Linked DNA regions of Homo sapiens: region 2 is linked to region 1. The links come from fine-mapping of genetic effects on gene expression. A gene starts in region 1. The other region holds a variant in brackets. All regions are shown on one strand. Distances are between the middles of the regions. Region 1 holds the start of ANKRD39 (ankyrin repeat domain 39). Region 2 overlaps ANKRD23 (ankyrin repeat domain 23).

Evidence for each region.
Region 2: its variant is fine-mapped to the expression of ANKRD39 in skeletal muscle (GTEx, PIP 0.94).

The regions. Positions count from the first base shown.
Region 1 is chr2:96,857,006-96,859,799 of GRCh38, reverse strand. ANKRD39 (ankyrin repeat domain 39) reads left to right here and starts at 1,784. Exons shown (of 4, transcript NM_016466.6): 1 at 1,784-1,912. The coding sequence starts at 1,813. It overlaps SEMA4C (semaphorin 4C), which reads left to right. Exons shown (of 15, transcript NM_017789.5): 15 at 1-82. RefSeq lists silencers at 1,254-1,923, 1,954-2,123.
Region 2 is chr2:96,836,679-96,839,472 of GRCh38, reverse strand. ANKRD23 (ankyrin repeat domain 23) reads left to right here. Exons shown (of 9, transcript NM_144994.8): 9 at 1-1,561. It also overlaps a transcript of CNNM3 not described here. Among named protein-coding and RNA genes, the nearest start is that of ANKRD23, 5.9 kb to the left of the region's middle. RefSeq lists enhancers at 1,037-1,591, 1,592-2,148. The variant G/A (reference allele first, on the strand shown) is at 1,463.

The DNA of each region.
Region 1 (2,794 bases):
ATTTATTTGTTGTAAATATTTGAGTATTTTTATATTGACAAATAAAATGGAGAAAATGAAACGATTGCTCTGATGGGGCTAAGATGTTTGGGCTAAAGCCTTTCTGGGTACCAAGAGGGAAGGCTCTCTGGGTGGAGGGAGGCTGGACTGGGCCTCCCCCACAATCCCAGGGCAGCCACCACTTTTGTGGTCCCTGCCTGCCTGTGGGAGGGGACAGCCCAGCTCTAGTGTTTTCCCACAGTGGTGGCTGCGGGGCTGGGAACGAGACCATGGCCATAGCCCCTTGGGAGCCAGCCTTGGCTTCTGGCCAGAAGGAGAAGTCAGGGCACTGGGAGTCCAGGGGAGAAGCGGAGTGGTGGGGGGGGTGCCTTCCCAGAACTCAAGACGGGTAGTGGGAATGAGGGGCCAAAGGAGTGGAAGGTTGTGGAGATGAGATCATTGCTTGTGTGAGGATGGGGTTCTCAACCTGCTTAGGGGAGGAGAAACGACTTCCAGCCTTCTACCCACCAGGAATGCTAGGGTCTTCCGTGCCCCAACTAGCGGGGGAAGGAACTTACATCCAGTGTGCACCAGACCACTGTCCTGGAGAGGGACTGGCACAGAACCCAACCTGCATTCTGTCGTTCATGCACTCTTTCTAAGCCGATCAGGCGGTCTCCCCTGTACACTTGATCGTGGCTTGAGCAGGCAGCTGCCTGGGTTTTAACTGGGAATTGAGAAGGCTGGGGTCCGCTGAGGAGCACGCTGCGAAGGTGCGCGGTCCGCAGACGGCCTCCCGGTGGGTTTTGATCATGAAGACCGATTCCGTAAACTCAGCGCCCACTGTGGGGCCAGGGGGTTCTGCACAAACCAAGGCCCTGCCCCTGCCCTGAGGTGGAGCTACAGGCAGGACAAGTTGTGGCCACCTGCCCCTTGCTGGACTTGTAAGGAAGAGCAGGGTACGGGGAGGGGCGTCTCGAGGCCTTTCCAGCCGTCACTTTGCCGCTGCCCCGGGGGCGGTCGGCCTTGGTCCGGGGTGGTGCCAGGAAGAGGGGCTAAAAACCGTGGAGCGCGCCCCGGCCCGATGGCTCACGCCTGTAATCCCAGCACTTTGGGAGGCCAAGGTGAGCGGATCACGAGGTCAAGAGATCGAGACCATCCTGGCGAAACCCCGTCTCTACTAAAAAATACAAAAAATTAGCCGGGCGTGGTGGCGGGCGCCTGTAGTCCCAGCTACTCAGGAGTCTGACGCAGGAGAATCGCTTGAACCCGGGAGGCGGAGGTTGCAGTGAGCCGAGATCGCGCCACTGCACACAAGTCTGGGTGACAGCGAGACTCCGTCTCAAAAAAAAAAAAAAAAAAAAAAAAGACCGCGGAGCGCGTGGCGCCTCCCTGCCCTAGGGACTAGGGGCGGTAAAGAGAGGAGGCTGCGAGGTCGCTGGACGGCTGGGTCATGGCGAAGGTAACGGGAAAGCTCCCGACCGGACCCAGCTGCCTCATCCCCACACCCTGCAAGGCCAGGCGGCCCGGCGGCCCTCCAGCGGCGCGCGGCTCCCGGAACCCAGCGCCTCAGTCCTCGCTTGGCCTTGGACGCCCTCGCGCGGAGGCCTCGGGGCACGGCCGGGCGCAACAAGCCCCGCCCTACCGTTGCAATTGGTTCTCGAGCTAAGGCCTAGGCGTTTGATTGGTCAGCTTTGGCGAGAAGGCGGGACTAGGGCGACAGCCGCGGACGCCGAGCGGCCAGATCAGGGACGCGGGGCGGGCCCTGCGTCCGCCCCTCCCGCCGAGGCTGAGCCTGAGACCCGGGGCGGATCGACTGACGCCGGGGCCGGGATGGCGACGCCTCGGCCCTGCGCGGACGGGCCCTGCTGCTCGCATCCCAGCGCGGTGCTCGGCGTACAGCAGACGCTGGAGGAGATGGACTTCGAGAGGGGTGAGGCTGCCGCGCGGCCCTCGTGGTTCTCACCAGGCCCCGGCCCAAGGAGGAGGCGTGGGGCCAAGGAGAGGCGGATGAACGGGGCCCCGAGAGCTTGGGGCTTGGGGCTTGGGGCCTGGTGCGGGAAGGCGGGCGGGACCCACGGTTCCCGTGTACTGAGAGCCTCCCAGGGCCCCGCACGAGCTCGGCCAGGAGACACCTGTCCCGCGGGCGGCGGGGAAGCGGAAGCACTGGTTTCCGTAACCCTCCCGAGTAGCGGGGGACGACCTCCCCTGGGAGACACAAGCCTGCTCAGGTGTTTGAGAGAGGGCCCGGGGAGCAGAATCTGCACCAGGGGCATTGCACCCAACCTGAGGGGCATGGAGCTGCAGGCCTGGGGGCTGCGCGGTGAAGGAGAGCAGTGGCCTTTGTTTAGCCCCGGGTGCCAGGCAGCCTGCATGCTTTAAAGATGGCAAGAGCTTCGCACGGGCAGCCTTCGAGGCAGGGCACAGTATCTCATCTGTGGGACCCAGAGAGGTAACACGTTTGGCCCAGATTATACAGAGATTATGGTGCCAATAGGAACAGAGGAAGGCGGGAAACCAGGGTGCTTCTTGTGAGCGTTGGGAACCACTGTGCTGTGTCATCTGCCCTTGCGGATGCAGCCCTCGATTGCCACTGCTGTGTAAGCATTCTCATGGAACTCTTCCTTTACCGTGGTTCTGGCACCTGCCTACTTCCCTCCGCCCCTCCTACCGCTGTCCTCTGCACTGCTGAAGTGGTTGCCTCAGAGGGTCTTTCTGCTTCCACGCTTGCCTTCCTACAGGGTTTTCTACTCTCACATAGCAGCCAGAGCGGCTTTTTGAAAATTAGAAATCACATCATTCCCTGTTATGGCCT
Region 2 (2,794 bases), 20 kb after region 1:
TGTGGTTCCTGCCCTCAGCCCTGGTTCCTCCCTCTCTGGCCTGTGCCGCCTCAGCAGCCCTGGCAGAACTGAAGAGCGGCACCGGGCCCAGCAGGCAAAGAGAGAGGCCTCCCTGGCTTCGAGTGTCAGGGGAGCCGCGTTCCCTCCCAGGGCTGGAGCAGAGGACCACAAGGCAGCAGAAAGCGCGGGTCCAGATGAGGGCCAGGAAGGGGAGGAGAGTGAGGGCCAAGAACGAGCCTTAAGGGAGCAGTCCCAAGCTGGAGCCACCCAGGGCTGGGTCTGGGAGTCCTCAGTGTCCACTTGTCCCAGGTTAGGGGGCTTGCCTTGCTCTCTCCAGGGCCAGTCTGTGTGTGTGGGGACTCAGCCCGTGGCCGGCAGATGCCATCCAGGATGTACAAGGTGCAGCCAAGGCAGGCCATGCAGGGGCCGGGCCTGTCTGCAGCTGGTGGATGCCTGTGGGCATGGCTTTCTCTGGGGACCCCATTCCTGTCAGTAGCAACCCTGGCAGTGTCCGGAGCGGCTCTAGACAACTTTGGTCATAGGAACTCTGGAGGTGGGTTCTGGTCATCTGAGGTGGCTACTCAACAGGTTTGAGGCCCCACAGCAACAGAAGTCCAGGACCCACTAGGTTGCCTCAGAAGCCCTAAGACTGATGAGCTGGAGCGCGCATTTGAGAGAAGCCTCGCACCCACTGTGTACTGGCCCCGCTCAGGCCGGCCTGGCACACCGTTGCCTGCTGGCGGCTCTCATGGGGAAGCGCCTGGGCACTGGGGATTGCTTGTGGCCCACTCAACTCTTGGGGCAGTGGCCCGTAACCCTAGTTTGCCTGAGGCCCTTATGTCCCCTTATGTTCCTGGTACTGGAGCTTGAGCTCTTGCCTGGAACGCTGCAGCTGCACCCACCCTGCTTGATCCCACCTGGGAGGCCAGGACACTGAGGAGCTCTGAACCCAGCCCACAGGGAAGCAGAGGAAGGTGAGCCCCCGCCGCCCCCCAGCCCTTCCCATCCCTTCCCTGCTCCCTGGTGGTCTAAGGACCCAAGCTCCCTAGACTTCCTCTTCCACCGTCTGTACGTTTCAAATTACACTGGTGTAGGCCTGTACTGCTGGTGGGGCTGGGCCCCTAAACGCCAGAAAGTGAATCTTAAGAAGCTCTGCCCTAAACTGAGAACCACATGCTGAGGGAAGGGCTGAAAGGTGAAGGCTCAGCCTCCCTCACATGGGTCCTGGGTTACATTAGGTACCGGGCTGATTGATAGGCATTTGGCCATGGTTCCTTTTCGTCTACCTTTGGGGGCCTTCTCAGGCCCAGAACAAGGCTGTTGTTACTATGTGGAAAAGCTGACCAGTGCTGCACACTAGGGGCACACACCTTTCCATGAGCAGCTCCTGCCCTGTGGCGACAGCCAGCGTGCACCCAGACGCTGGTGCCATGGCGAAGCAGGCGTTCAAGACCATGGAGAA[G/A]ACAACTCCTCATCTAGAAAATGAGGACACCTCAGTGACAAACACACCTTTTTATACCAATCAGTATCCTCTGTTCATTAAAACTGGCTATCCATTACAGCCTAGCCGTCTTTCCTGGGCCGAGAGGAGCCCATGCTTCAGTCACCAGGGACTGTCTGATAGGGCCCACGCCTGTTAGCCATGCCGGCCGACAGCAAGATAGGCCGAGTGCAGAGTGGGCGGGATGCGGGGTCCTGGCACTAGGCTTTTGTGCTTAAGGCACCTCTGCTCACTGACGACAAGGTCAAAGAGCAGTGGTTCTCCACCTCAGCTGCTTATCAGAATCACCAGGAAGGTTTAAAAAGTCCTGATGTCCAGACCCTAAGTCAGAAGCCCTGAGGGGAGGATCCAGGTATTCTCATGCAGAGGCCATGCTTGTCTATGTGGGAAATCCTAGGAATCTACAGAAAGCAGACAACTAGGGAGTCCAGCAAAATCTCGGGTGCAAGATAAACACACAAAAACCTGTTTCTACCTCCTAGAAATGAACATGTAGACACAAAAGTTAAAAATATGTACTGTTTACAATTGCTGAAAAAGGGAAATACTTCGGTTTAAATCTAACAAAATATGCAAGGACTTGTATGCTGAAAATTATAAAACGTGATGAAATCAAAGATTTAAATAGACATGCCATGTTCATGGATTGCTAGACAGAATACAGTAAAGATATCAATTCTCCTCAAATTAACATACAGGTTAAATGCAGTTCCTATCAAAATCCTAGAAGATGTTTTGTAGATGTAGACAAGGTTATTCTAAAATTCATATACAAATTTATAGCAAAAATATTTTGAAAAAGAATAGAGTGAGAGGAGGAATCAGTCCAGCTGATTTCAAGATCTACTATATAGCTATGTGAACCAAGAGTGCAATGCTGGCAGAGGCACAGACACACAGATCGACAGAGCCGAGATCATCACGGGAACAGGACCACACAAATATGCCCAGCTGACTTTAAGGTGCAAAAGTAATTCAATGGAGGAAGGACAGCCTTTCAACAAACGGTGCTGGAGCAGCTGGACCAGCTATAGGATTAAAAAAAAAGAACTTTAGCCTAAGTCTTACACATTATACAAAAATTAACATGGCTCACATGCATACTTAAATTTAAAACTATAAAACTTCTTTTAGGAAAAAACAGATAACCTTTGGGATCTAAGACTAGGTAGAGTTGTTCTTAAATGCAACACTAAAAGCAACAGTCCATAAAGGAAATATCAGTAAAGTGGACTTTATCAAAACTGAAAACTTTTGCTCTGTATAAAACCCTGTTAAGAGGGTGAAAAGATG